Homo sapiens: one gene and its partners. The protein of the gene in region 2 interacts with the protein of the main gene of each other region in a biochemical or structural test. Each region holds a gene or a part of one and is shown on either strand. Other genes may lie near its edges.

Evidence for each region.
Region 1: the proteins of MPDZ (region 2) and HTR2A form a complex in vitro, tested with the Homo sapiens proteins (2 studies listed by IntAct, with this or other methods).
Region 3: the proteins of MPDZ (region 2) and HTR2C form a complex in vitro, tested with the Homo sapiens proteins (3 studies listed by BioGRID and IntAct, with this or other methods).
Region 4: the proteins of MPDZ (region 2) and KIT form a complex in vitro, tested with the Homo sapiens proteins (2 studies listed by BioGRID and IntAct, with this or other methods).

What each region holds. Positions count from the first base shown.
Region 1 is NC_000013.11:46,893,175-46,902,590, forward strand, and holds the start of HTR2A (5-hydroxytryptamine receptor 2A), read right to left. Parts: upstream 3,880-9,416; 5' UTR 3,500-3,879; intron 3,061-3,499; 5' UTR 2,733-3,060; coding exon 2,321-2,732; intron 1-2,320. UniProt on the Homo sapiens protein: G-protein coupled receptor for 5-hydroxytryptamine (serotonin).
Region 2 is NC_000009.12:13,103,532-13,109,434, forward strand, and holds the end of MPDZ (multiple PDZ domain protein), read right to left. Parts: intron 5,529-5,903; coding exon 5,405-5,528; intron 3,581-5,404; coding exon 3,434-3,580; 3' UTR 2,176-3,433; downstream 1-2,175. UniProt on the Homo sapiens protein: Member of the NMDAR signaling complex that may play a role in control of AMPAR potentiation and synaptic plasticity in excitatory synapses. Promotes clustering of HT2RC at the cell surface.
Region 3 is NC_000023.11:114,844,761-114,854,177, forward strand, and holds part of HTR2C (5-hydroxytryptamine receptor 2C isoform a precursor), read left to right. Parts: intron 1-3,242; coding exon 3,243-3,443; intron 3,444-9,417. UniProt on the Homo sapiens protein: G-protein coupled receptor for 5-hydroxytryptamine (serotonin).
Region 4 is NC_000004.12:54,737,577-54,743,252, reverse strand, and holds the end of KIT (mast/stem cell growth factor receptor Kit isoform 1 precursor), read right to left. Parts: intron 4,825-5,676; coding exon 4,696-4,824; 3' UTR 2,538-4,695; downstream 1-2,537. UniProt on the Homo sapiens protein: Tyrosine-protein kinase that acts as a cell-surface receptor for the cytokine KITLG/SCF and plays an essential role in the regulation of cell survival and proliferation, hematopoiesis, stem cell maintenance, gametogenesis, mast cell development, migration and function, and in melanogenesis.

The DNA of each region.
Region 1 (9,416 bases), on a different chromosome or scaffold from region 2:
AAATTTGGGGTATGTGTAGGGAGAGCTGAAGACAAGGGTGAAGAAAAATAAAGAAAGGTGTCCTTGCTCTGAGCTTTGTTTTAGGGAGGCATTTCTCAAACTTTAGTGAGCATCAGACTCTGCCACACCTCTTAAAACACACACTGCTGGACCTCCGTCCAGAGGTTCTGATGCAGTTAGTAGGGAGCAGGCTGTAGAATTTGCATCTGAATTAGCAAGCTCCCGGGTGATGCTGATGCTGCTGGTCCAGGGACCACGCTTTGTGAATAGCTGCTTTAGGGTAGTGGCTCTCACCCCTGGCTGCACATCAGTATCAGCTGGAGAGCTTTAGAGAAGGTCCTGATGCCCATGCCAAACCCAGCCCAATTAAATCATGTTTGGAGGGTGGGCTGAGGTGGACATCAAATGTCAAAGCGTTTGCAAAGCTTTTTCCAAGCTCCCCAGACAATTCCAATGTAAGAGATACTGCAGGTCACCTGCTATATGAGGAAGGTTAGAGTGTGCTTTATGGACATAAACAAAGTGTCCTGGTTTTGTGTTTTGGAGGGGGATTAAGCAGTTATGTAAACCTTAATTAGTTTTGATCACAGTATAAGCAGCGGAGTTAGATCTGCCTGCATGTAAGAAGGAAAATTTTAAAGTCCACTTTTCTTATTACAGACCCACAAAGCCGAACAAACTCCAACGCAAACGTACACTCTCTACCAAAATGCCACAAGGGATATTTAGACAAGTAAAGGGCGTAGGTACAAGCCTAATTTACAGCCATTCACATGTATTATTTGCAAAGAGCTTGAGCCGAAAGGAAAGCCTTTTCCTTTGCAGCGCCTTATGGGGGAAGCCACGCTCTGTCTGTTCGGAACAGATGTCGGCCCTCGGAGGGGTTTCTCTGCCAGGAGGCGGCCCAGGCCTCAGTCCGTGTTTCTGATGCGGGATAAGGAGGGGGCATTTCCTTGTGGGAGAAGCCCCATGCCCCACGCCCCGTGGGCTGGGGGAGGCTGGAGGAGCAGCCTAGGGAGGGGCGGGGCTCCGGAGGGAACGGGCTGCTCTCAGAGCGGCGGCCGCCAGGGGGCGCCCTTGCTCCCCAAGCGGGTGACGCCGGGGGTCACCCCACCCTCCAGCCTCTGTTTTGGGTCCCGCTCTGTCACTCCTCCTACCCCCACTGGAGTTTGCCCCCTAGGGGAGGGGGTTTGGGAAGCGAGAATCTTCCCCGGGATGCCGGGGAAAGGGCAGGCAAATTAAATGAAATCATTCCGGTGTGGCATTTAAATGGTCAAGTGAAGGCTGGACTTGGAATGAGTGTTACTAGCTTTGTGCAAACTGGCGCCTGCTCGCCCTTGCGTACCGCCTTCCTCCTTCACATTCTCTAGGGCTGGGTTGATGTTTTTTAATCTTAGCCCCTAAGACTTGACCAGAAAATTTCCCTTTAAAGATAGCTATCATAACCTGTCTCTAAGCTCTGAGTGACTGCTGCTTGTGCCTGTGTCAGCAGTCACAATAGTCTCTCCTTTAAGGAGGTATCTGGCTGTATTACTCATAATTTGGAAAGAATATCACATTCTGGTCCCTTGCTGAGAGGTCTGACTGTTTCAAACTCTGTTGAGAAGAAAGCAAGATTAATCCCTTCCCATTTGTTTCCCACCCTCCTCCAAACCAGACTGGAGGAGTTTATGCATATGCATTTTCAAAGAGTTGAGGATATAATTCAAAGGCACATTTCCAAATTAGCTTCTCTGGGCAGGGAACAATTAAAACTGGAGTAATTCATTTATTCTAATTGAGGTTCTGCATATTTTAACATAAAACCTATTGCACCACTAATGTTCTCTCTGCAAATGTTCCAAAGTAATTGGGAAGGCTTTATCACTCCATTAAAAGTGCTGAAAACTGTGTGACAAAGATTAAAACTGTTCTGTCCTGAAGGCTGGAATATTGGTTGGGAATATAAAGAAGCAAAAATCAAGTAGATTCAGAATGATGGGTAAGTTATTGGTTTATGACTGTATGGGGTAATTTATAAAAATTTCTACATTAAATGTACATGTTTTGAAGCACAAAACTCTCCAATGATCATTTTTACACAGGATGTACGCGTTTTGAAGCACAAAACTCTCCAGTGATCACAGGTCATAGACTGTCTGATTTTTATGTGAAATCCCATTTTAAGAGTAAAATATAAGTAACATAGTAGGCTCTAGTCTATAAACAAAGACTTCTATTTATAGTTTGTTTGCCCCCTGAGCCCCATCTCATCTGCTGGTGGCATGCACATGCTCTTTATTACCAGTGCGAATATAGCTGGGAAACTAATGCCACTCACCATACAGGATGGTTAACATGGACACGGGCATGACAAGGAAACCCAGCAGCATATCAGCTATGGCAAGTGACATCAGGAAATAGTTGGTGGCATTCTGCAGCTTTTTCTCTAGGGACACTGCCATGATGACGAGTATGTTTCCAGCAATAGTTAGAATAATCACTACGGCTGTCAGTAAAGCAGACCAGTTTTTTTCCTGGAGATGAAGTAAGGAGAGACACGACGGTGAGAGGCACCCTTCACAGGAAAGGTTGGTTCGATTTTCAGAGTCGACTGTCCAGTTAAATGCATCAGAAGTGTTAGCTTCTCCGGAGTTAAAGTCATTACTGTAGAGCCTGGTGTCATCATTTAATTGCATTAGGGAGTTCGTAGTTGAGCTCAAAGAAGTATTTTCTTCACAAAGAATATCCATGTCTAAGCCAGAACTTGTAGCAGATGAGGTGTAGAAGGACTAACAGGTTATAGTTTCTGCTCACCATTCACCTTGATGTACCCACACTCTGTAACACTGAGGCTGGTGTACATGCTGTTCTCCCGGGGCTGGATTTTTGTCTTCCATTATTACAATGATAGTTAAAGAACTGAACTGTGGTGGCTGTAAGTTTTCTTCATTCACAATTTTAGGAGAGTCCACTGTTTGGTTTTATTATTTTCTCACCAAACCGAGGACAAAAAAGCAGAATGAACTTTTAGCATAGAGGTTGCAGGGTTTTTTTTGAGCGCTCGGGAAGATAAATGTCCTGGACAAAGAAGAAAAGTTTTATAACTACTGGGACTCTTGTTTAACTATATCTCATTTTGTTGGTTATGCCGATGGTACTAGTTTAGCAACAGTATTATTAAAATAGCATGCAATCAGAAACAGTGGGGATGTACACATTCTACATTAAGAAAGTCAATTAAAAATACATCCAGTGTTAATCCCATAGTAATTGGATGTACTTTGGGTTACAGTTCTCAGCCATTCTTAAGCTGAATTGCCACAGCTGCTGTCAGGAATTTCAGCTCCTATAATGTTGCTTAGCTAATAAAAGGAAAACAAAAAAGTCTTAAGTAAAGATTAGCAGACAACTTTCCTCCCTGGAAATTCTCATTGAAATGATTACATGTTGGCCAAGCATGATTTCAAACCGGAAAGAAAATTACACAGCAATAAAATATAGCGGCATGAGAACTTACATTTGTCTTCAGGGTCCACACATGAGATACATTTGTTATTCTGTGACTCGCTGCATCTCTCACAGTAATTAAACTGGTGTAGAGTCCCCTCTTCTTGATCTTCCACCAGCATAATATGATAGTAATTTGGTTTCTGTTTTGCTGACTTCAAAAACTGCATGCAAGAGCTGAGCCAGCTCCCGCACTGCTAGGATCCTGTTGGCTTCCTCTGGCACGGCTCGGCTGGGTTCCTCCCTCCCTGTGCGGCTCGCCTCAGCAGGCACACATTTAGAAATCATTCACGAGCCCCTCAAAGTCGCACAAAAGAACTGCATGGGAAAGTAGGAAGAGCTGTCTGCACCAAGGGACTCCTGGTTTCCACGGGAATGGAGTAGCTCTCTGACTGTCTCGTTCATTTCATCAGACCTCCCTCTATGTGTATGTCATAAGCTGCAAGGTAGCAACAGCCAGGAGGGCGGACCAAACAGGCTTTTTCTTCTCCCTCTTTTTGCTACATATTAATATTGGGAAGTTTTCCTTTGCTTTTGAGAGAAACTGGAGAAATGGCCTTTTGTGCAGATTCCCATTAAGGTAGGTAAGTGGCACTGTGGTAATTTTTTAGGCTGAAGGGTGAAGAGAGAACATAAATAAGGCTAGAAAACAGTATGTCCTCGGAGTGCTGTGAGTGTCCGGCACTTCCATCCAAAGCCAACAGTGTTTGTGTCCAGAGTGGAATTACTGACATTGGCCACATAGGCTCAGGGTGGCTAGGCACGTCTGTGGTGATAACTCTGATAAACTATTAGCACTATTTTTATTTAATAGATACACCATTGAACTGGCTTATTTTCTTCAGCAGAAATATGCCACCCAGATATTATTCAAAACCTCACATGTGGTAGGAAATAAGTTGGTTTCGCAGTACCAATTTTTTTCCCCCACCAGTAATGACAACTTGCCTTACTTGTAAAGAAAGCCCTTTCCCAAGTAGGTTTCTAAAGGAGGCAGTTCGATCTCTCTCTTTTTGCAGGCATGAAAATATTTTCCTCAATAGTTGGGTTTTGCTACAGTTCTATCACCTTCTGTTCTTCACATTCTCCCTGGACAAATTCAACCACTCTCATGCCTTCAATATGTTTGTGGCCAAGTCTGTACCTTCATAGCTGATTATTTCTCTCAGTTCCAGACCTAAATCTCTAGCTGCCCATTGGCTCCTTCCATGGTAGCCTGGGAGACCTTGACCTCAGCATCTTCCCTCACTCCGCATCCCCCTGCCCGGCTCTCAGTGCTTGTTCCTACCCATTGGCTTGCATGATGGAATCACCACCTCTTCAGACAGCTGCTGTTATCCGCGACTCTTCCTTCATTCTCGCTGCCAGATCCCACTTCGTCTCCGGTGCTACCTCTGTATGCGTGTTTCTCACATGTCCTCTCCTGCAGCCTGCAGCTGGCACCCTGTGGTCGAGATCTAGCCACCTATTTCCTGGGTGGGTGCCTTAGTGCCCCCCTCACTGCCATGCCTGCCACCCTCCTACCCCTCCACGTTAAATATGCACGCTGGCGAGCAGGCAGCGGAGAACACAGACCTTAGAGTTCCTTGGTTTTGGATCCTAGCTCTATCACTCATAAACAGTAGAACCTCGCCTCATCTAGTTGCTCCCTTTAAAGCTCAGTCTTCTCACTTGTAAAATGGGATAATACCTTCCTCATAAGATTGTAGTGAAGCTAAACTGAGATAATGTGTGTAAGTATTTGGCCCATGTCTGGCTTATAGGAGGTTCTCAAGTAATGTCAGCCACTTTCATTCCTATTGATATTCTTACTGATATTAATGACACAATTGGCATCACTCCCATGCCTACACTCCTGCAGTCCCTTCCTTGTGGGGCACATAACACTTTTCTTCATCTACCTGTACCCTGCTTGCCCCACTTTGCAGGCCTGGACTCTGGTTACTCTCCCAGTCAGCCTGTATGCAGACTGAACTTACATGTTTCTGACCATTTTTATGTCTCTGTACTTGTACTTCCCTGTGCCCGGAGTGCTCTTACCATTCCTTTTTTGTGTGTGTCCATCTGGCAAATTCGTGCTTAGTTCCAGAGCAGCTCTGGATCCCAGGCCTACCACTCACCACATCTGTAAGCGTGATTAAGCTACCTAATCTCTGTGTTTTAGTCTCCTCATCCGCAAGTAGGGAACATTAATAATAAAAAGACCTCAGGATTGACGTGAAAGCCAAATAAATTTACATATTTGCCTGGCACATTTTAAGCACTCAATAAAGGTTAGTTGCTATTATTCTTACTAAGTTTACTGTTCCTAAGCTTTCTGTAGCCCTCCTTCCCAGTGGAGGCAAAGACTATAGCACCTTCTGCAGCCTTCTATTTTTAACACATCATGTCTCATGTAAGCCTCATAAAGGCAGGAACTGTGTCTATCTTGTTAACAGCTGGGCGCATAGTGCTTAAGTATGTTTGTTGAATGAATGCATGACATCTGTGTAAATGTCTGTCTTCTCTATTAGATGTTGAACTTCATTTCCATACCCTTAATATAGATGTAATCTATATTACATCTATCTTATACTATTATATTATCCACCCAGATGCAATTCATAAACCTCACATGTGGTATCTAAGCATGGTATCTCATAATGGAAGGTCCTCAACAGATGTGTTCTGACTGAATTGTTATTAGCATAAATTAAGATGAATTGATTATTAAAAAGGAGAACCAGGGAGAAACTTAGAACCTCTCATTTTTTCTTGTTACTTTGTTTATTGGGATACCAATTTAATTTTATTAAAGATAGCAGAGGGAAATGTAATATAAAAAATACTCCAGTGTCAGGAAGTTATTCAAAAGTTTTCTGAGGTTAAATTTTATAGATGTTCTTGTTATAGCTCTTAGAGAATTCTGATGATCTCAGTCCATTATTTCTCATGAAGAACAGCTAGGCTTCTAGTCATGCCAAAACTAATCAGTGTTTCTTATTATGTGGTTTACACTGGGAAATATTTTTTTGGCTACCATCTAAGATTATTTCTAGTTTTTATTGCAATTTTATGAATACTTGTTATGGACAAAGCAGTAGGGGCATAATCTAGGCTCCTGATTCTTAAACAGAGCTTCTAGGTTAATAGCATGAGGGTTAGATTAGGTAGGAATAGTTTCTTGCTGGGCAGATGCCCCTGTGAGTTTGGTGAGACGAGTGTGTGTTGGCTGCTGTAGTGCGCACCGTGATGCCTCGCCCAGCTTCTGCTTCAGGGCTGAGACTCGGGCTCCCTGCTGCTGGAAGGATTGGTGGCTGGCTCTCCACTCTTTCTGTGAACACTCCCCTCAGCCAAGGAAGCCAGCTTGCCAGTGGTCATGCCCCTTCTCTGTGGCAGCCAGCATGCAAAGACTGGTCCATTGTGAGGATATAAAGGGCTGGCCCTCTTGCCTGATGGCTGAAGAACTTTGGTTCCAGTGCTTCTATGGGATTCACTGAGGCCTTTGTTGTGTCAAATCCAAGTTAAATATCTCCCCTTGTCCAGTCTGGCTTCTCTTGCTCCCCTGCCGGTGTTGATCTGAGAGCTCGCCCCACACAAATCTCTTGCACACACATCAGTCACAGAGTCAGCTTCCTGGGGAGCTCAACCTATGACCTATCATCTTTAGCTGTGTATTAATGCCTTGAATAACATCTCTGGGTGAGTTGGATGTCTTACACAAAACAGATAAGTGTTGTCTATGTGATGATGAATGATGCTTCCTTGCCATAAGCTTAGAATTCTTCAATATACATCTGGCTTTGCTATCTAATTACTGCCAGAAGGAATTTAAGGTTAACAATACCAGAACTATATTTATTATCTTGGGCAGAATTTCTCTAGTTCTTAATTGGACCATATATAGGAATACATTTTATAACTAGTTCATTTTGGAAGATTCACTAGAAAGTGATTGCTTAAAATTAGATGTTAATATTTTCTCAATGACTTCAGTGGTATTTGTAGCCTTTGTTTGAATTTTTTTCCAGGCTAAAGTTATTGGGTTTCTGAAACTGTAGTGTCTTACATATGTCAATGTATATGAGAAAAAAAGGTTCCTTGACCAATTAAGTCTGGAACATTACTGTATCTTATAGTCTCCTCTTAGAAATATACAGTGCATAATTGCATATTAAAAGCTGTAAGAGATCCTGCAGTAAGGAAATTTGTTTATATTTATTTCATTCCTCTTCATCCAGAACACTCATTGAAAGACACTTTAATTTTGTCTAAATTGAGTTATATTTTAAATTTATTAAAACATAATGCTCTTAAGTATACAATTCACTGAGTTTGACAAATATGTACACCCATGTAACCATCACCCAAATTAAGATATCCACCATTTTCATCATTTTTGAAAGTACTCTCCTATCCTTTTTTGACTTTAACTTAAATGGACACATGTGGCCCTCCTTCCTAGTGGAGGCAAAGACTGTAGCATCTTCTGCAGTCTTCTATGTCACGCTTCTTTCACTCAACAGTGTATCTGTGTGTTCATCCATGTCACTGTGATTAAATGATTATTTAATGGATTGTAGTCTGAGAAACTGAAATGGCCTGGACATTTGGGGTTTCAACATTTATTTTTTTTCTTGTTCAAAGGAACATAGAATAGGTCCCTTTTCTTTGTTACGTTTGTCCTTTTTAAGCTGCTTAATTTTGCAAGACAGTGCCAACCTTAACCTTCACTCAATTGATTATGCCTGATTTTGTTATGAATTGGCAGCATAGAATTCTTTTACTCTATGATATTTAAGAATATGTCTCTAAGATTTCTGCTGCTCAAACATTACTAATGGCCTGAGAATGAGGAAAAAAATATTAACAGAGGGTTTACTGACTGACATTTTATCTATCACTTCCTTTTGGTGCTCTGATACTTAGGTTTGGAACAAGCCAGACCATCGGACCAATGTATATTTAGAAAACAATATCATGAACTGCCTTCTATTATGGCACTGGCTTGTATCTAAAAAAAAAAACTACTTGAAATTAGCTAATGACTGTCATCTATCTTTTTAATTTTCTCACAGTGGCACCGAGTTGAACAATATTCATTAATTTAACAGTTGATAATTGACTGCTGTGTCAAGCACTATTATAGGTGCTGAGTATAACCATGAAGATGAGCATAGTTCCTGCCTTCATTCATTCAAGAAATAGTTGGCAGTAGCATGGATGAGTACAGAGTTTAGGGAAGAGACATCAAATAGCCAATGGCATATTGGTATTTAAGGTATGCTACTAGGTGAAATCATCTAAGAGAGTGAGTGGAGATAAAGAAGGGAAGAGGTCTGAGAACTCAGCCATGGATTACTGCAATAGTTTAGGTCAGAGAGTGTGGAGGAACCTGCCAAGTAGAATGAAAAGGGGCACCCAGTGAGTTAGGAGAGACACAAAGAGAAAGTGTAATCCTAAAGTAAAAGAAAAGAAAGATGGCCAAGAAGAATGAGTATGCAACTGGGTGAAATGCCTTCTGACCAGCTGAGTATAATAAGGACTGAGAAATCACCGTAAAATTTGTCAAAATGGTAGTCTTTGGTGGCCTTGATAAGAACTGTTCCAGTGGAGTAGTTGGAATAACAGCCCAATGGAATGGGTTCAAGAGGGGAGGGGGAGGGAAGCAAGAACATCAGTTTCAGGTGAGAGATGGTGTGGCTTTCACTAGGGTAGTGCTAGTGGGTTTGTGAGAAATGGTCAGATTCTGCGTATGTTTTAAAGGTAGAGCCAACAGAACTTGATGACAGATAATGATAGGATATGGGACGTGAGAGAAAGAAGAGAGCTGCGTCACTCTGAAGGTTTTAGATCTGAGCAACTAGAAGAATGGGGCATCGTCCTTAACAGAAATAGTCAAGGCTTCAGTGGGAGCTTACTTGGGGTGATTATCAGATCAGTCTTGG
Region 2 (5,903 bases):
TAACTCCATCACTGTTCTGATATATGAATTTTACTGATTGGCTACATTACCTTGCTATTCCTGCTGCTAATATATGTGTGTGTGTGTGTGTGTGTGTGTGTGTGTGTGTGTGTGTGTGTGTGTGTATATATGAAATACTTTATTACTGTTATTATCCTTTTGGAGTGGTATGAAGAATACCAGAAATCTGTGGTATTTCCAGTTTGATTTAATCAAACGTAATTATATTTATGGAACCTATTATGGGCAATCCACTGTTTTGGGTAGTATGTTGGCATTAACATTGTAATAGTCAAGTCTTTATTTAAACTCTTTGTTCAAGTACTTTCTTCTTTCTTCTTTCACCACAGACAACTACTATATTTCCAGAAAGAAAAAATATAGCAAGCATAAGGCTTCATTACTTATCCCCAGGACTTATGAATCTATATTCTTTTCCTCTCAAACTTTACTTTCCTTCCTCCCTCCCTCCTTCCATTTTCTCTTTAATGTGCTTTGTCTTTGTTAATTAATAGCTACTCACAGAGTTTCTCCTGTTAGCCAGACATAATGACAGTAGCTCAGGACACAAACTTTTTTTTTTTTTTGAGACAAGGTTTTACTCCCATTGCCCACTGGAGTGCAATGGTGCGATCTTGGCTCACTGCAACCGCTGCCTCCCAGACTCAAGTGATTCTCCTGCCTCAGCCTCCCGAGTAGCTGTCTGGCTAGTTGTTTTTTTTTGTTTTTTGTACTTTCTGTAGCGACGGGGTTTTACCATGTTGCTCAGGCTGGTCTCAAAATCCTGAGCTCAAGAGATCAGCTCACCTCGGCCTCTCAAAGTGCTGGAATTACAGGCATGAGCCACCACGTGCAACCAACATTTAAGATACTCTAACAGTTTCCCAGTGCTTAAACAAAGTACCACAAACTGTGGCTTAAAACAACAGAGATTTATTTTCTCACAGTATAGAGGGCAGAAGCCTGAAATCAAGGTGTCAATAAGGCCAACTTCTTTCTGAAGGCCCTAGGGAAAAAACATTCCTTGTCTCTTCCAGCTTTTGAGGGCCCCCTAGGTATTCCTTGGCTTGTTTGTTTTGTTTTGTTTTGCCTCCATCTTCATGGGGCCTTCTTCCCTATGTCTGTGCCTTCACAATACCTACTTACACAGAAACCAGTCCTAGGATAGAGAACACCCTAAATCAGCATGAACTTAACTCATTACATCTGCAAAGACCCCATTTCCAAAGGTCACGTTCTGAGGTTCCAGATGGACATGAATCATGGGAAGACACTATTTAAACTGGGCTGTTCTTGTTGGGGGCACTTAGACATTATGAAACTTGAAGGGGTTGGGTGGCTTTCTCCCATACAGTCTGGTATGGAGCATCCTCTATAAAAATTCTTTGCTAGCTCAAACTCAGATGTGAGGTTAGTTCATCTTCCAGCAGCCTACCATGAAATAATGGCATCTTTCGTTATGGAGAGCCACTAAATGATGGCTAAGAAGGTAGATGTGTCACTGGGATACTAAAATGAGTTTTGTTACATTGAGCGCCTAAATTTACAATGATTGGTTAACAACTTTGAGTTGTTACAATATGCAGTTTCTTCTATTCGTTTTGTGTAACTAAGAATCACGGAATTCTTATATTTTAGAACTAAATAGAACCTTTGTGATAAAATAATCTATCATTTTACAGATAAGATGAATGAGAGGGAAATGCACGTTTGTTAGCTAATTTGGTACAAAACTAGTAGAACAGAGTTCCCCTCATTCCTTGCTCAGTGTTCAAGTTGGACTTGTCATGTTTATTAATACAAATAATTTTGATTATGATTTTGTCCATCTGAATACACTTGAATAGTTCTTGACCACACAAAAGAGCAACTTACAATATTACTGCATTAACAGCATTTGAGAAAAACATATACAGGCAGGATACTTCTCTTTCTACAATGTCATCTTCCTCTCATCTATGAGGAGTCTATGAATCTTTAGTGCTAGAAAAAATTGTGGAGGTAAAAAATATTAAGCTTTCCATAATGATGTTGTCCAAAGTTCCTTTAGCTGTAACTATGGACACCATATGTGCAGTTAGACATGATAAAAACCAATTTTAAGTTGTAAATCTTGAACAGTATATAACAAAGCTTTTCCACAGTAAAAAGAACAAAAAAAATGCTTGCTGCTTATTTGTGCACCACTGAAAATTCTTATTTATTCACTTTAATTCTGCATTTACACAAAAATGCTGTAATAAAATATCTGTACACTACTTCTGTTACAAATATAGATATTTAAAGTGACTTTATATATTCTAATGTAGGAGTTTCACGCTCTAAAATGGGAATGAACACATGATAATTCCTCACCAGTTGTCTCAATAAACAGCTCCATCTGTTTCCCTTAGTCTTAAACTATTGTATTATAAGATGTTAATATAAGTCAATGAAATGAAGTTATGTTAATCCCCTTAATTTTTCTATCAATTTACTAATGGCATACAACCAAAATAATTAGTAACACATTGTTCTCTGTCATTAAGATTAATATGAATTGAAAACCAATTGCACAGCACACTAACACATTTTTAATGTTGCATCGGTTGTTAAAACCAGCACTAAAGATTCTGGAACCCTTCTATGTTCCTCTATGGTTAGCAGCATAGTTGCTTTCTAGAAAAACCATAGTCAACATGGGGTGGCATCATCATTTACTTATAGCAACATGAAAATATTTTACAAAAGGTCAAAAATAAGAATGAAAATTGAAATGTGCATTAAATATAATTTCTTTATAAAATTTAGGGACATTGCTTCATGTATTTGCCATTTACTCAATTGTAGAAACCAATTTTAGCAGGAAAAATATATATGCATATTAGAGGTGGGGAGATGCAATGTTTTTATAATACTGTTGAAAATTTTAAAATACTGACAGTATTTTTAAAGATTTTCATTAGAAAACCTTTTTTTCTTTTTTTAGTTTGGGGTGGGGAGAGGAGGTAGATTGCCAAATTGAGGCATTTTTTTTAAACTCCCCGAGATTTTCTTCTTTATTTTATATTTTCATTTTTCATCCTAATTTACTGAAGCCATTTTCTTTGGTTAGCTTTAGAATTATCTTTCTTTATACTAACCAGCTTAGCATGTAATAATTCTTGCCCATGTGACTACAAAACATTAGATATCTCCACAAATAAAAACGAGATTCACCTACACAAATATTCCTTCTCTTTAAGTTCACAAAATGCAAGAAGAAAAGAAAAATGATGTTAGGTTGTCAGTAAGGAAAGCATTTCTAGATGAGAAAAAGAAACTTAAGTGTTATTTCCCCCCTACAGTTTTGAAGACCCGGCTGAACACAGCATAAAAATTGTCAGGACCAGTGCATTCTCTTTACAGTAGGAGGTGAGCTAGGGGTTGGGTTGGTTCAATTCTGGCAGCCAATTCAAGAGAGAACCATCAAAGTGACAGTGCCTTTTGTCCGTTTAAGGATGGCAACAGCTTCTTCATGGGTGACTCCTTCTAGACTCTGCCCATTGACAGCAATGATCTGATCGCCCCTTTTCAGACGTCCGTCTTCAGAGGCTGCTCCCTGCAAATTATAAAGTAGACTTGTTTATTTCTCAAAAAATGCTGCCTTGCAACTCACAACAGAAAAAGATCTCAACAGGAATGTAAATTGCTCTGCTTGTACACACACACTGCTCCCAGTGCTCCATGGGTGCTCTAAGCCATTAAGCAATGATGAACATAGACAAAGAAGGTCTTTCTCCTAAATGGTTTTAGCATTGAGATACCAATTTGAGAGAGAATTTAGCAGTCGATAGATCAGTTGGATGGGTTTTTGGCTGTTCAGCACAGCAGTTGGTGGGAACACAAATTAATAAAGAATATTTGGGAATTTGCCTAGTAGGAATGATTCAATAGAATCCAGGATTTTCTATCCTGTAAATAAGACCTACAGAAAGAAGGTAAAGGATTAGGTAGGAACAAAAACAGTTTTACAGGACAAGGGCTTGGGGGATGACAAAATCCAAAGGTCTGCAAAAGCACAAAGCCACCTGAACATTCCCTATGGCAGGATAAGGCATAAGTTCTAAATTTAAAACCCACTGCTATTTCTTTTTGTGGTTTTGAAAAAGCTATTCAAGCTGTCTTAGTTCTTACTTCCCAAGGGTAGAGAGATTCTTCATATTCCTTATGGACCCTAAATGATTAAGATTAAATACAGACATTGGTGTTAGAAAAAGAACCCCATCTTAAAGCACGCTTATAGAAGACAATTATGCAATTAAATATAAAATTAAAAATATGGAAAAGTTAATGAGGAATCCATAATGATGAAATTCTTAAAATATGTTCTAACTAGCATGCCTTAAATAAATTGTTCCTAGGCTGAGGAAAAGGACTGTATGACTCTTCTATTCACTAGCAAATGCTGTTTGTATTTTTGGACATACCGATAGCTTTTTTAAAAATCTTATAAATTAAGCCTATAGCTAGCTTGTTGTAGGTACAACACTTTAAATTGGCTAAAAAAAAGATCTTTTCCAAAATAATAAAATAAAATATCCATAAAGAACTATACCACTAATCCAAAGGCCCTGTATCAAATTTTTAAACACGTTTGACTAAGTTTTGTTTCTTTTGACACTGTAAAATTTTGAGATTCTAAATTTTTCCCTGCAGAAAATCTTGTCGAATTTTGTAGCCCCTGAAAAACGACTTAACATATTAACAATAATTACATGGGTTTAAATTATTTTAATAGCTTTACCAGTACTGCAATATCTTTATTCTTATTCTAAACCTTCTTAAGCTAGAATAGGTATTATATAATTATAACTATACAGTCTTTTTAATTGAATCCCTTGATTGCAAATCGCTGACTTATTATAGATGATAGGGCTGCTGGATACTCCCTACATTTTTTCAGTAGTTATTTTTGTTTTATTCAATGAAATTAAATTTATAAAATAAATGCTTATTAATTTTCATGTGTACTTTATGTACTTCTCTATAACTATTTTATATTTCACAACAAAAAAATGCAAACAGAAATACCAGTGCTCTACAGCATACTTATTTAAAATGTCCCATTTTCAAAAGACGATCATGTGCAATTTGTGTTCAAAGAAAAAAAAATAGGCTTTACTAACCAAAGTTCATTAATATTTTTATGTATATTGTTGAGTTTCCATGGAGTTTCAATTTGAGCCTATTTTCCTTTAAATATAATGAAACCTCAAATTGGACAAAAATATTTAATGACCTGTTCCTGTAGGGAGTTTTGAAAAGAAATGATCAACTGTTAACCATTTGGCATTACCTCAGGCCATAAACTAATAAGCCAGCTGCTGACCACTATTAATGAATGTTTAGGGGAAAAGAGGGTGGTTAAAATTTGCAAGCTTACCTTTGCAAACACTGTTTTAACATAAATGGGTAAGTCTCCATGAGGGCTGCCATATCCTCCAACTATACTGAAGCCTAAGCCATCTGGTCCTCGCTCTAGTGTAATAGACTTACATTGAGGAGGTCTACGGTGAAGGAAAGGAAAAAGAGGTTTTAAATTAAAAAAAAAAAACTATACATATATGTTATGAATTATCTGACATCCACCTAGAGCTAGCATAATTCTCTTTGTTACTGACAAGGAGTATATTACGGGTATTTTTGAGATGCTTAAATTGTCAGTGCATGCTGTGCTTGGTATTTTAAATTTACATAATCTAATGAAATCCTACTTAACACCCTAATTCTATTACTCATTTACAGTTCCCTTAAACTAACATATTCATGGCATGTTCTCATTGTACAGAGAAGCTCATTCTTTTTCCAGTTTATTTAAAGTGAGAGGGCTAAAGTTCAGGGGACTATATTAGAATAAGTCATAAACATCAGTACGCCCAAGC
Region 3 (9,417 bases), on a different chromosome or scaffold from region 2:
ACATCAACTAAAAGAAGAACATCATCTATTGATTTCAAGCCATCAAGAACATATAACAATTATAAACATATATGTACCTAACAACAGAGCCCAACAATTATACGAAGTGAAAAATAAAAGAATTAATGGGAGAAAAAGGTAGATCTATAATAATATTTGGAGATATCAATACTCCATTTTCAATAATGGACAGAACAACAAGACAGAAAATCAATGAGGAAAATAGAGGACTTGAACAACACTATAAAACAACTAATTCTAACAGACAGATACAGAACATTCCATCTAATAACAACAATAAATACATTTTTTCTCATGTGCACATGGAACATTCTCTGGGATGGACCATAAGTTTTACCACAAAACAAATGTCAATACATTTAAAATATTATTATTATTTAAAGTATCCTAATACATTTAAAATATTATTATTCAAAGTAGAAATCAGTAACAGAAAGAAAACTAAAAAATTTACAAATATGCAAAAATTAAACAATATTAAACAACCAATAAGTGAAAGAAGAAAATACAAATGAAATTCAAAAATATTTTGAGAATGGCAGAATAAAAACTTAATATACCAAAAAATTATGGGATGCATCAAAAGCTGCGCTCAGAGGGAAATTTATATCTGTAAATGGCTACATTTAAAAATAAAATGAACTCAATTAATGACCTAACTTTATACCATAAGAAACTAGAAAAGTAGAGCAAGTTTAACCCAAACTCACAAAATAACTGAAATGATGAAGTTTAGTGGAAATATAAAAAATAAAGAATAGGAAAAATATAAGGACAATTAATAAAACCAAACGTTTTCCTTTTTTTGAAAAGATCAAAAAAGTTGACAAATCTTTAGATAGACAGACTAAGGAAAAAAGAGAAGACACAAATTACAAAAATCAGAAATGAAAGTGGGGGTATTACTACTAACCTTACAGAAATTAAAAGGATTGGCTGGCCAATCCTCCTGGTGTGGTATCTCATGCCTGTAATCCTCGCACCTTGGGAGGCCAAGGTGGGAGGATTACTTGAGCCTATGAGTTCAAGAGCAGCCTAGGCAACATGGTGAAAACCCATCTCTACAAAAAAAAATTTAAAAATTAGACAGGTATGGTGCCACATGTTTGTGGCCCTAGCTACTCAGGAGGCTTAGTTAGGAAGATTGCTTGAGCCCAGGAGGTTGAGACTGCAGTGAGCCATTATTACACCACTGCAAACTAGCCCAGACAACAGAGCAAGATCCTATCTCAAAAAAAATTAAAAGGATTATAAAACAATACAATGAACAATTATACACCAGTAAATTAAATAACCTGGATGAAATGTAAAAATTTCTAAAAACACACATACTACCAAAAGTGACTCAAGGAGAAATAATCTGAAGAGTCATATAAAAAGTAACTACATTGAATCAGTGATCAAATACCTCTCAACAATGAAAGCTCAAGACAAGAAGTTTTCCTTTTGAATTTCACCGAACATTTCAAAAATTAACACCAATTCTTCTCAAACTCTTCTAAAAAATAGAAGATGAAGAAACATTTTGTAATATATTCTATTAGACTGGCATTATCTTAATATCAAAGCCAGCTAAAGACATTACAAGAAAATTATAGATTAGTATTGTTTATTAATATAAATGCAAAAGTCTTCAATAAAATACTAGCAAACTAAATTCAGCACCATATTATATACCCATTACTAAATGGGATTTATCTCAGGGATGCAAGAGGGATTCAACATACAGAAACTAATCAATGTAATGTATCACATTAATAGAATGAAGGTATGCAAACCACATGATTATGTCAATTGATGCAGAAAAAGCATTTGCAAAAGTCCATCACTTTTTTATGATAAAAAAATGTTCAACAAACTAGGAATAAAAGAAAATGTCCTTGACAGGCATTTATAAAAAACAAAAACAAAACCCAGTCAATAGTGAAAGACTGATTTTCCTCTAAGATCAGGGAAAAAAGGCAGAATGCCCAACTTCATTAGTTCTATTTATCATGGTACTGAAAATTCCATGTAGAGAAATTAGGCAAAGAGAGGAAATAAAAGGCAGAGGAAAATTGGAAAAGAATAAATCAAATTATTTCTATTTGCAGAAGACATGATCTTATATATGGAAAATCCCAAAGAGTCAACACAAAACATAGCTCTAATAAATGAATTCAGCAAAGTTGCAGGACATTTGTAGTTCTATACACAGTGATGAACAATCCATGAAAGAATTTAAGAAAACAATTCTATTTACAACAGCTTCCAAAAAAACCTCAATTGATAACAGCATCAGCCACAAAGAAGAATTAAGTATTGATACATGCTACGAAATAGATAAACCTCAAAAACATTAGCTAGGTGAAAGAAGCCAGACCCAAAAAGTCACAAATTGTATGATTCTATTTATATGAAATATCCAAATTAGTTAAATCCATAGACTGGATTAAGAAAATGTGGCACATATACACCATGGAATACTATGCAGCCATAAAAAATGATGAGTTCATGTCCTTTGTAGGGACATGGATGAAATTGGAAATCATCATTCTCAGTAAACTATCGCAAGGACAAAAAACCAAACACTGCATGTTCTCACTCATAGGTGGGAATTGAACAATGAGAACACATGGACACAGGAAGGGGAACATCACACTCTGGGGACTGTTGTGGGGTGGGGGGAGGGGGGAGGGGTAGCATTAGGATATATACCTAATGCTAAATGACGAGTTAATGGGTGCAGCACACCAGCATAGCACATGTATACATATGTAACTAACCTGCACATTGTGCACATGTACCCTAAAACTTAAAGTATAATAATAATTAAAAAAAAAAGATAAAAAGCAAATTAGAGATTGCCAGGAGCTGGTTGATGGGAGAATGGGAAGTAACTGCTTAACGGTATGCAGTTTCCTTTTGGAGTGATGAAATGTTTCTGAACTAGAGACAGATGCTAGTTGCACAATATTGTGAATGTACTAGATGCCATTGGATTGTACACTTTAAAGAGATTAATTTTATGTTGTGTAAATTTTACCTCAATAAAATATATGTCACGCTGAAGGTATCATTATCATGATCACCATCATCATCCCTATAGAAAATAATGCTTCCTAAATTTCACTTTCTTTAAAAGGTTTAGATTATGAGAAAATATAAGCAGACTAAAATTTGAGACTATAGTCAGTACAATTTGGATGACGTGTTCTTGTCTTCTCTCTGTTCTCTTTCAGATTATGTCTGGCCACTACCTAGATATTTGTGCCCCGTCTGGATTTCTTTAGATGTTTTATTTTCAACAGCGTCCATCATGCACCTCTGCGCTATATCGCTGGATCGGTATGTAGCAATACGTAATCCTATTGAGCATAGCCGTTTCAATTCGCGGACTAAGGCCATCATGAAGATTGCTATTGTTTGGGCAATTTCTATAGGTAAATAAAACTTTTTGGCCATAAGAATTGCAGCGGCTATGCTCAATACTTTCGGATTATGTACTGTGAACAACGTACAGACGTCGACTGGTAACATTTGCGTTTGATCGGGTTCTTTTATTTAGTAATTATTCTTAACCTATTTATCTGATATTTAGGTTAACAATAATGAAAGGAATGTAATGTGTATTAATATGTAAATATAAAGTTTCCATTTATGCTGCTAAATTATTTTATGCATTAGTATGCCAATGAATTCTGCAACACAGATACAAAATGTTTGAAATATTTAAAATGCTTTGAAAATGAGAAAGACATAAAGTCTAATTAAAGTCTAAATTTTAAAAATATAACATTTCAATCTTATATTGAAAAGTTACATGTATCCCAGAATATTAACCTTAGTATTTTTATTCTAAATTCCTATCCTTTTCAGTAGAAAAATTAATAATGCAATCTAAATCATCATCAAGTAAATATGTCTAAATTTTTGTTGCTATGACACCTAAAATGTACTATTTTCTCTCAGTTTTAATTGTCTTCTTGAATTCTGGGTATACAAAAAGAAAAAAAAATTTGTTTCTTTAAAGATTTGTAGCAGTTTAAAGGGAAAGAAATGATCATTTATTGCTTATATTTGAGGTATTCATAAATGCCTTAACAGTGCTAATATTAAAGCCAAGAAATTTAAACAATTGGACTTTAGGGGTTTTACTTTCATGTTTTTTTCCTTTTCCAGTTGGTGTAAATAATTTTTCTTCATATTTATGTTTTTGTAAAGATTGAGGTAAAGTGTGCAACAAGATCAAGACTTCTATTTAATCTTCACTAATATCATCTAAATATTTTGACTCTGGGTTTATTGATCAAATACATTTAAGTTTTAAGATTGTTCTATTGTAGATTGTTCTGCCTGTGTATAGCATAGACACCTTTGAATAAAAAGTCGTGAAGCTTGTCCCAAAAGACAAAAATGAATTTACGTAAGTTTGACTTACAAATTCAAGAGTTCACAGATTTTGCCCTAGCCATCACAAAGAGTTCATCTAAAAAGATGCCAGCTTTTATGGTGCTTACAAAGGAAATACACAGACAGAATATTGTTGCATCAGCTTCTAGTAATGAAAGACTGAGTAATTTGCAATGACTCTTGTGCTAAAGGCAAATAAACACATGGATAAAACACTAAAAGCCCTAAGAAGCTAATGAAATAGAAATTGCTATTGGCTAAGATCCAGAAAAAGACAAAAACCCAAGAAAAATGATTATGACTTCTAGTTCACTTTTGCCAATGATGCATTATAAACCTGAAGATATGACTGACAGGTGGAGACGATCATTTCAGACTCGCAAGCAATGGAGGACTAGAGTAGGAATACAGAGTCTGGCAAGGGCCAACCAACCTGAATTTAATTCTGGGATCACAAAAAAACCAGACACTAGGAATAAGGATCGACCAGGATTAAATCACCATAGACATGGAATTCAGCCCTGGTTCAAGTCATCTATGTAAATGAGAGAAATCTTGGGCCTTAAAATTGGATTAAGATGATTTCGTATTATTCAGGTTTCCAATTTTGGGGCATAAACAAACAAAAAAAACCCCATAATCCTAGATTTCAACTTATTTCTTTCAATAATTTTCAAATGCTGTCACTGAAATACAATGATATGCAGATATATGAGGAGACAATACAACATGAATCAGGTATGGGACAATAAGAGATAACAGAAATAAACTTACAAACACTTCAGATAATTGAATTATCAGACATACACTTTAAATAATCATTTGGAATGTGCACATGGAAATTACATGCTGATCTTAAACACTTCAGCAAGAAACTGCAAACTATAACAAATGACATTAAGATTTGAGAAACACCTAGAAAATATGGAACTTAAGCATAATATGAAAAACTAAGGGCCAGGCAGTGTCTTACACCTGTAATTCCAGCACTTTGGGAGGCCGATGCAGGCGGATCACTTGTGGCCAGGAGTTCAAGACTAGCCTGGACAACATGATGAAACCCCATCTCTACTAAAAATACAAAAATTAGCCAGGTATGGTAGCACACGCCTGTAATCCCAGCTACTTGGGAGGCTGTGGTGGGAGGATCACTTGACCCTCAGAGGTCAAGTCTGCAGTGAGCTGAGATCATGCCACTGCGCTCCAGCCTGGGCAACAGAGTGAGACTCTGTCACACACACAAAAAAAATTAATTAATTAAAAAATGAAAACCTAAGAACTCTGTGGCAGATTAGAGATGGCGAATTTCCAAATTTACAGAAGATTATTATAAAATATTAAAAATTAGCTGGGTATGGTGGCATGTGCCTGTAGCCCTAGCTACTCAGAAGGTTGAGGCAGGAGCATCACTTGAACTCAAGTGTCTTGAGGTTGCAGTGAGCTATGATCGTGCTATGACACTTCAGCCTTGATGAGAAAGCAACACTTTGTCTCTACAAATAAAAGATAAAATGAAATAATAAGATAAATCCAAAAGGAGTCAATAAAAGATAGAAAAATATAAAACGTATACTGAATGGCAGAATTAAAACCAAATATATCCCTAATTATATGAATTACTAAGGATTCTAAGACTGTCATATAGGCTTTCAAAAAAATAAGACAACTATATGTTACAAGAGGCATATATAAAGCATAAAGAAAGTAAAAGGATAAAAACAAACAAAAAAATTCCTCCATCTAAACACTATCCAAGAGAAAGACTGTATAGCTATATTAATATTTGTCAAAATAGACTTTTCGGCAAAAAACAAATACTCCAGTGAAAGAAGATTACTTACTATGAAAGATTTAATACATCTGGAAGACATAAGGTAATAAATTTGTATGTACATAATTATATGTAGATACATATGTAATATACATAGTATATACATTATAAAGTAAAAGAGGACAGAACTTCAGGGACAGATAGACAAGTCTACAATCATCGCATAAGATCTTAGCACATCCTTCTCAGCGATTGTATGAAAACAATTAACAAACCTGAACTCACTGACAAGTGAAGAATACATATTCCCATCATTGCACAAGAAATATTTATCAAAACTGACCATAAAGTAATTCCTCAACACATTCCAAAGGGTTGGAATAAATTGTTTATTCTTTGACTGAAATTCAAAAGAAATAGAAATGACTTCAAAATAGTAGAAAAACCTTCGTATATTTGGAAATTAAGAAATTGTTTCCCAATAAACTTTGACCTAATGGATTTCAAATCCATTGATGATTCTTCCCTAAGCTATCTATTACTAAGGTGATACAATGATAATTTTTCTCATTTTATTATTCTTCCTGCCTTTATTTGTTGGTATTATACTGTAAGGAAGTGTTTTCCCTCCAAGTCTTTGTTATTTATTAGTTCATGTTGGTGGAGACTCCTGGATTCTTTTGTATTCAGTGTAATATATATGATTCATTATTGCCCTTAATTATTTTGATGCTCAAATTGTCTCATATTTTTCTAATAAGAACTCCTTTTCATATATCCCATCAGCTTTTGAGCATTTGCCAGACTCACCTTTTACTTTCCATGCCCCAGTTCCGAAATTAGCCATTTCTTACAAGAAACCCTTTTAGTGGGCAATGGTTTTATAAAGCAGGATGCAGAAGCTCAGTATGCTCATTGCTAATAGGATATCATTGCTCCTATATATCAATACCTTTAATCCCAATTCACGAACACAGGACTCTTGCTACTTTCCAATTCTTTATTTTTCCTCATTTTTCTCACAGTGAGTAACTTTGTCCCCAAACCATTGATATATTTATTATTTATATTTTCTATATCCTACCATACAAGAAATTAATTTCAGAATTTCTATACCCATACCACTACCAATAAATGAAATGCAATGTTTAAAATTTCATTGCAATTTTATCTTTAGAATGTTTTCCACCAATGGCATATAGTCAAAGCATTGTCTTCAAAATGCTAGGATTAGTTTGAATTTTTTTTCTCTGTGGTTCTGATACCAATTGTTCACATTTAGGGATTTTGTTTTGTTTTTGCATGTATTCCCCAACCTTGTTGACTTTATTTTTTAATATGTAAAACTTTAATATGATGCTCCAACAGTCAAAACTAGGCAAATAAAATACTCAGAGAAGAGTCAGTTCCTCTTCTATTCCGTGGTTAACCCATTCATTAGTTTCTAGGGCATACTTCTTGAATTTATTTTTGCAAAAAAAAAAAAGATTATACACAAATACACGTATTGTTATTTTTCCATTCTTAAATTAAAAGTTAAAATGCTACATACAAATTAATACTTTGTTTTGCTTTGTTCTTTTACTTGGAAATATGTCCTGGAAATCACTCTATCAATTTGTAAGATGATAGATATGCACCCAACTTTATCATGTAAATGGCCTAAATACTCCAATTAAAAGCTAAATTCATTCTATTATTTTTTACACTCACTAATAATAGATTGTGTTGATATACTTTATTTAACCAATCTTCTGTGTATAATCAGGTAAGTTGTTTCCAACATTTGGAAGTTGCCAATAATTCTACTAAGAATAATTGTGTGTGTGTGTGTGTGTGTGTGTGTGTCCTTTGTGTGTGCGTGCGTGCATGTGTGTCTGTCTTGTGTGTTTGTGTGCGCGCGCGCGTGCATGTGTGTGTTTCATATTATTGGAAGTTTAACTTTTAAATAAATTCTTGCTCAAATGTATTCAGAATTTATCTTCTAAATAAATTCTTAGAGGAGGAGTTGATTGATCAAAGGGTACATGTAGTTAGGAGTTGAACCATTTTGCATTCCCACCAGCAATGCAAGAAAGCCTCTGTTTCCCCAAAGCCTTGCTAATGAAGTTTATTTTCAAACTTTTTAGATTTTGCAAATCCCATAAGTGAGAAATGTTACCTCAGTGTAATTTTAATTTGCATCTATTTTATTTGGCTGAAGTTCATATGATTAAATGTATGAAAACCACTTCAGTGCCATTGCTAAATCAGTTTTAAGTGTCCTTTTGCTCATTTTTTCTGATTTTTTTTCATTTTTATTTCTTAATTTAATAGCTCTTTATAAGTTATAGACACTAACCATTTAACATGTTATAAATGAAAATATTTTCTGTTTGCTATTTGATATAGCTATGGTATTTTGCCATACAAAATTATTTTATTTTCATGTAGTTCATCTTGTCAATCAGATTTCCTTTTTATGTTGAGAGTAATGGCAACAAATTCTTTCCCCTAACTCAGGTTGGACAATAAATCACACATATTTTTCTCATTTTTACATTTAGACCTCTGATACATTTGGAGTTTATTCTTGTACGTTGTGACATACACATTCAATTTTAGTCTCTTAAAACTAATTCTTCCATTGTCTCATGCTATTTATTTAAAAAGTCCATCTGTCCTGTGATATGAGATGCCATCTTTATAGTATATTAAATATTCTTATATGCCTGGACATGTTTCTGAAGTTCACATTTTATTCCACTACACTGTCTAATCAAATGCCAATTTCACACTTTTAATTATAAATGCTATTACATAAATGTTATTATCTGATATGGTTAGTCCCTATTCATTAGGCATTTTTTAGAGCTTGTGTAGACATTACTGAAAGTTTAATTTTCCATATTAACGTTAACATTAACTTGCCTTGTTCTATTCTAAAAGCCTGGATATTTTGACAGGGATCTCCTTAAATTTATAATTTAATTTAAGAAAAAATGAACAACTGAATTTTAAAAATGCTTTCTCTAATCTGTATACTAATTTAGGTGGTGGCCACTCTGTCTTCCAAACTTTACTGCCAAACCTATATGTCACTCTCATGTCTTCCTTATCAACATTTATAATGTATCTCATAAGAATCAATTTTTTAGCTTTACCACAAACCAAATCTGTCTTCTATGCATTCACTAGTGACTACTTAATTGTTTAATTTATGAATTTTCAAACTTTTTGGTCTAGTGATCTCT
Region 4 (5,676 bases), on a different chromosome or scaffold from region 2:
TGTGAGACAATCAATTTCCATATGGAAGCCAGCCAGTTTCAAGTGCTTTGTTATGGCAGCCCTAGCAAACCAATACACTTTTCTTCATAAAGGTTCACTCAAAGGCTGCCCAGGTGGTGCTTCCTGAAGCCTTGCTCATCCCGAGACCTCTCCCATGGGGCATTTTCTCATGCAGACGCTGGTGCTGCTGACCTTCTCCAAGACCAAGTGTGGGGTGGTGCGGTCTTCCTGTCTTCAGCTTCTGCACCTTAAGCCCTGAAACTGCTTGTCAGCTGCAGCTCCTCTCCCTACTTCTGAATAAGGCAGAGCACTCCTGCCACTTTCCCTTCCTCTTCACCCTTCCCCAACTACCAACGCCCTCCTTTCCTTCTCTTCTCCTTGTTCCCACAAAGCCTCTGTATAGGCCTCAGTAAGGCTGTCCGAAGGAATGTTTCTAGTTCCCCTTTCTCTTCTCCCCAAAGCGCCACCCCCCTCATGTGAAATTAAGCTAACTTCACTAGCTTCTGTCTTCTTCTATTTCCTCTCTTTCTTGGGCCCATTTCCTCCCTAATGGCTCTCTCTCACTCCAAACACTGATGGGATGTTTAATTATTTGTTCAAAAAGAACCACTCTTGAAGTACTCTGCTAGCAGCTTTGGGGTGTCTGAGATGAAGAACATCTGTCCCTCAGGAAGATGGAAACTTGGTCATCATTTAAGGGGGACAGGTAAGTCTCTCTGCAGGCTAACACCAGTTGACTCCTATCAGCTTGTTGGAAAAGACTGTGACTTCTAAGGCACCTGGGCTCAGTTGGAGGGTGTGGTGGCAGATGAGTGATGTCTGCATGGCCAGGGTGGTGGGAGACACCAGCATGGGAAGACCAGGTGTTTGCCATCACTGAGGTACAGATCTGGATTCCAAGTCTGGTTTCATGTACTGCTCCATGAACTTGGGCAAAATGTAACTCTTGCAACCTCTTGGGCAATTTAACCCCTGAGCGTCCGGACAATTCAATATTTAACAAGTAAATGATACCACTGACACCAGTAACCCTGGCACATACGGGAATTTTATGTTAACCGATTTTAAGTCTGGATATAGTATGGGTGGGGACAAGACAAAAGCCAAAATAATAAAAAAATCAATTGTAAGAGCCATAAAAAGTAAAGAGTGTTGTGGGAGTTCAGCGACAGCTTCCCATTGAGATGATTTTGCTGGTCTTGAAAGATGGGGTCTTGCTGGAGAGAAGAGACAGTATGCAGTCTGAGAATGGAAGCAGAGAAGAGCATGGGGCATACTCATGGGCCTTTGATAATAGGAGAGAAGTAGGAAGGAAGGCTGGAGCAAGAATAGAGAGCTTTGAATTCCTGGTCAAACACTGGGATTAAAAAAAAAAAAAACCACCACCACCACCCAGAAATCTTTATAGCAATGTCAAGTTGTGCAACACACTTGTACAATACTGTTTGCACCTAAGAGAAAGAAAATTAGAATCAAGCTTTTGACTGTATAATTTTACATGGGTTATGTCAGTACAGGAACACCGCCCTCCCTGCTTAATAAGGTGAATTGGCCGTGGAAAAACTTATTAGGCATATGAACGAGCTGGTCTTGACAGCCTCACATTAATACATCAAGGTAGACACTACTCCCATGAGCTGAGATTTCAAGAGCTAATCTGCCTAATGTCACACAGTGGTTAAGTGGTAGACACAGGGGTGGCACTGAGATTCGAACCAAGTTTGAGCCTGGGCACCAAGACCTGGTATTCCTTTCCAATGAAAAGCTAGGCTGGTGAGGAAAATTAGCTAGACTCTTAACACAGGGGACTGTCAACTGCTTCTAACGCAAATTTCTCACACATGACAAAGGCTAAATGACAGTGAAAACATTTGGAAAGAAAAGACTTCTTTGTTTTGTGGTCAATTAGCATTCATTCCTGTCTGCAATAAAATAATGGGAATTGCCTGACTGAAATGTGGGTCTGTTTTTCACTGATTATTGACGCATTCCTTGCCACACAATTCCCTCTGGATTTTAAAAGGATTCCTTTTCATTACAGGTCACTTTTCACCCCTTCCCTTTCCTTTCAGGAGACATTTCTGCAGGTGTAGATGTCACGTCAATAAAGACAGTCATGACTGAGGGTGTGTGGGTGCCTCATTCTTAATAAGATTATGTGATTCAGGGTGCTTCCTTTTGTTTCAAGCTGAAGAACTCTCAGCCTCTGTTTGGGTTCCAGTGGTCTGGACGGTACCAATTGGGCATGCATAATGTTTCACCCACATGACAGCACCCAGCTCATACATACTAAGCACCTTCTCTGTATCTATTTTTCAATTTAAATAGAGACCTCAGGTTGTAAGACTAAAATGAGAAAATATCACACGTATGAAAATTCTTAATATCTGTTGAATCTCGAAGCATGTAAATCCTAGCGTGATCTGATAGCCCTGCACATATTTTATGAAAACTGCGTACAAAACTTTGTCAGGATGATTGCACTTTAATGCTTTAAAGTTTAATCTCAACGAATCTCAACAATCAAATGACTCCACTTGATTTATATATGTACATTTTATTAGAATTCTTCAGAACTGTCAACAATTGGACAACATACAGGAATAAAACACGTGGAACACCAACATCCTTTAAACTTACGCCGCTTATGTATTTACACATAAAGTTACTGTATATATAAAAAATATTTTCAAGGACTCATGGGCTTGGGAATATTCAAAAGACATTATTGCTACATTTCAATATTTACAAAAAAAGCCACAAAATAATTTCAAACATTAAGCCACTGCAAAGAAACATCTGATGTAAGAAAAAATTATAAAAATATAAACTTTCAAGAATATCCAAGACAAAACTCTCAATGAAGTGCCCCTGAAGTACCTAGACATCTATAACTAACAACCACTTTTCTTACTATCATTGAAGTCAATAGAAACACAAAGGAATTTTTCAGACAAAGTATGGCAAACAACAATCTCTTGGGTGACAACACAACCCCAAAATCTGTTAACTTTGGAAAGGTGCGAGAGCATAGAACTCCAGTGCAAATGGTTACTTCCAGATAACGGCCACAGTTCTCTAAATGTAGTCTAAGAAATGTAGAAGGGGGAAACCATAAAGGCAACATACCTGAATCTTTCAAGACAACACACAAACTCTGCCATGTACACATTTGCCTTTTATATTGGGCAGTGAGGAAGGGGAGTTTTTTGTTTTGTTTTGTTTTGTTTTTAAAGAGGTAAACTACAAGAATAATATCCAGGCTACAGTCTAAAGGGTAAAATTTAAATGTTTCAGTGAGACAGTAGCATTATGGAAGGTCTAAGGAACAGGTACAGTAAGATGAGTCTAAATAACAGAGTGCCTTAAGTGCAGGTGAACTGCAAATACATAGGGACTGATGCCTTCCACTTCCTCTGCACCACTATGGAAGCTTCTGGTAAGCTACTCTAGACAGCTATGTGAAAAGAAACAAGAGCAGTACTAATAATGAAAGCCAAGTTACTTTTCAGGTACTAAAGGACCCTCTTGGACTCAGGGCAAAAATACCCCTCCAAATATTTGTCTACACACATACAAACGTACATACACATATATAGATACTGGCCCGGTGTCCAGGACATGCCTGCGAAGGAGGCTAAACCTATACTTTATTTCCTGCTACATAAGAATCCAAACTAAGATGGCAGTGTTTTCCCACTCCTGTGGGAGCCATGCAGTGAATCAGTAACTTTGTCAAACAGCATCAAATCCATTGAGTACAATGCCATTCTGAAGCTGATAGGCTTGTTCCACAGAATCTACAGAATAAGTTCATCAGCTAAAAGAGGAGATTTTGTTCAAACTGTGCTTTGTGGTTATATTGTTTCCTTAAAAAATGGTATTAACTGTTTCCTTCAAACTTATATGGCTCTTAATCTACTTCTATACACAGTGGACATAATGCCAGGGTTGTATACAGAAACGAAACCTTATGGTGTTTTCCCCTCAAATGTATGAACACGGACAATTTATAGATGCGTATATACAAGTGCTGGCTAGGGAGGCCTTCTCTCCAATTCAATGCTCTAATAGCAAACTCTATTTAAAAACCAGGTCGGTAGTATAAAAGCTCATGCAGTGGTCCACAGAAGAGCATCTTTTGTTCACACTTGGGGATCATTTTTTTCATGGCCTATGTCTCATTCCCAGCATGAAATACTAGATTTCTTAAGCCCAGGTGTTCATACTCTGTCCTTTGTTCTAATGATGTTCTGTTTTCCACATAAAGGACTTAGGTTTTCAGCTTCTAATCTTGTATCATCATACTACTATGGATGGTTCTGAAGGCCAACTGTGATTACTACCATTTATTCAGGTAAACTATCAACCATATTTTTGGGCAGAATTGGAGAAGCCTTGGAAAGGACTCTGGCCCCCAGTCCATACCTCCCTCTCTTTTTCCAAATCAGAATGTTTTCTGTTCATGGTAGAAGCTACGTTGCTATTGGGAATATATACAGTTGGAACCTTTGCAATAGGATGGTGGCTGATGACAAAAATCATCGGCCACTAAAGTGTGCTCAGAAAGACAGGATTGCAGTGGGGTGCCCACTATCCTGGAGTTGGATGCAAGTTGAAAGAAAAGAAAATAACCATCATGGAAGCCAAAAGAAGAGATCATTCCTGGAGGGGTGACCCAAACACTGATTCTGCTCAGACATCGTCGTGCACAAGCAGAGGCTGGGAGGAGGAAGCGGTGCTGCCGACAGAATTGATCCGCACAGAATGGTCTACCACGGGCTTCTGTCGGTTGGGGCTGCAGTTTGCTAAGTTGGAGTAAATCTGGAGAAAACAAGCCCATAGTCAATACAGCAGTCCCTACAACGAACATAGCAACAAAAGGCATACTTACAGTGTCAAGATCACAACTAACTGATGGAAACTCTTAAGAGAGAAGTGGTTTCCAAGAACTTTGTGGCCAAAACCCAAGTCATACTGACAAAACAAATATAAGCTTTGTTTTCCCCCTTCATTTTTCCAAGGAAATAACTTTATACAAGAAGTGGGGACAAAACATGCACAAGCTTAGCTCTTCTAAAAGGGCACACCAGGCACCAAGCACTATCTTACCTATTTAAAAGGCTTGTAAATCTCTCCAGCAACTACAACCCAATAACCAATGTAATTTGCTGGGAAACCCACGGCCCTTCCAGGGGTCTCTTGTCAAGAATCAAAGCAACTGGGTGGAAAATGCTGTTCAATTTGAAACATGTTTTGACACCCAGAAGAACAAGCTTTAACCCAAAAATTATCAGTGGTGTGCTATTAGGAAAGAAAAGATAGCTCCAAGCACACAGCCCAGGAAAGAAAGCAGCTTAAAAAAATCTGAGTCAAAGTATCACTAATTCTTGCTTAAAAAGAGAGGAAATAATGGATTTGAGTTTTCATTCCCCCACACTTCCCAAATCACTGGGAGGGATCTCCCAACTTCAAACAGCTCTTCATTCTATATGGCTTGTGGGCATGACAGCTATCTGCCATTTTCTGGCTATGCTTGTTTGATCAGAAGGCTTATTTCACTGCAGTAACAAGCTGTCTTTTCTATGCTTTTATTCTAGTTCACATCACCCCAACCCTCCAAAGGATGCATGGCCCTGACATGTGAGAGGGAGAAAATACTGACCCCGTGACCAG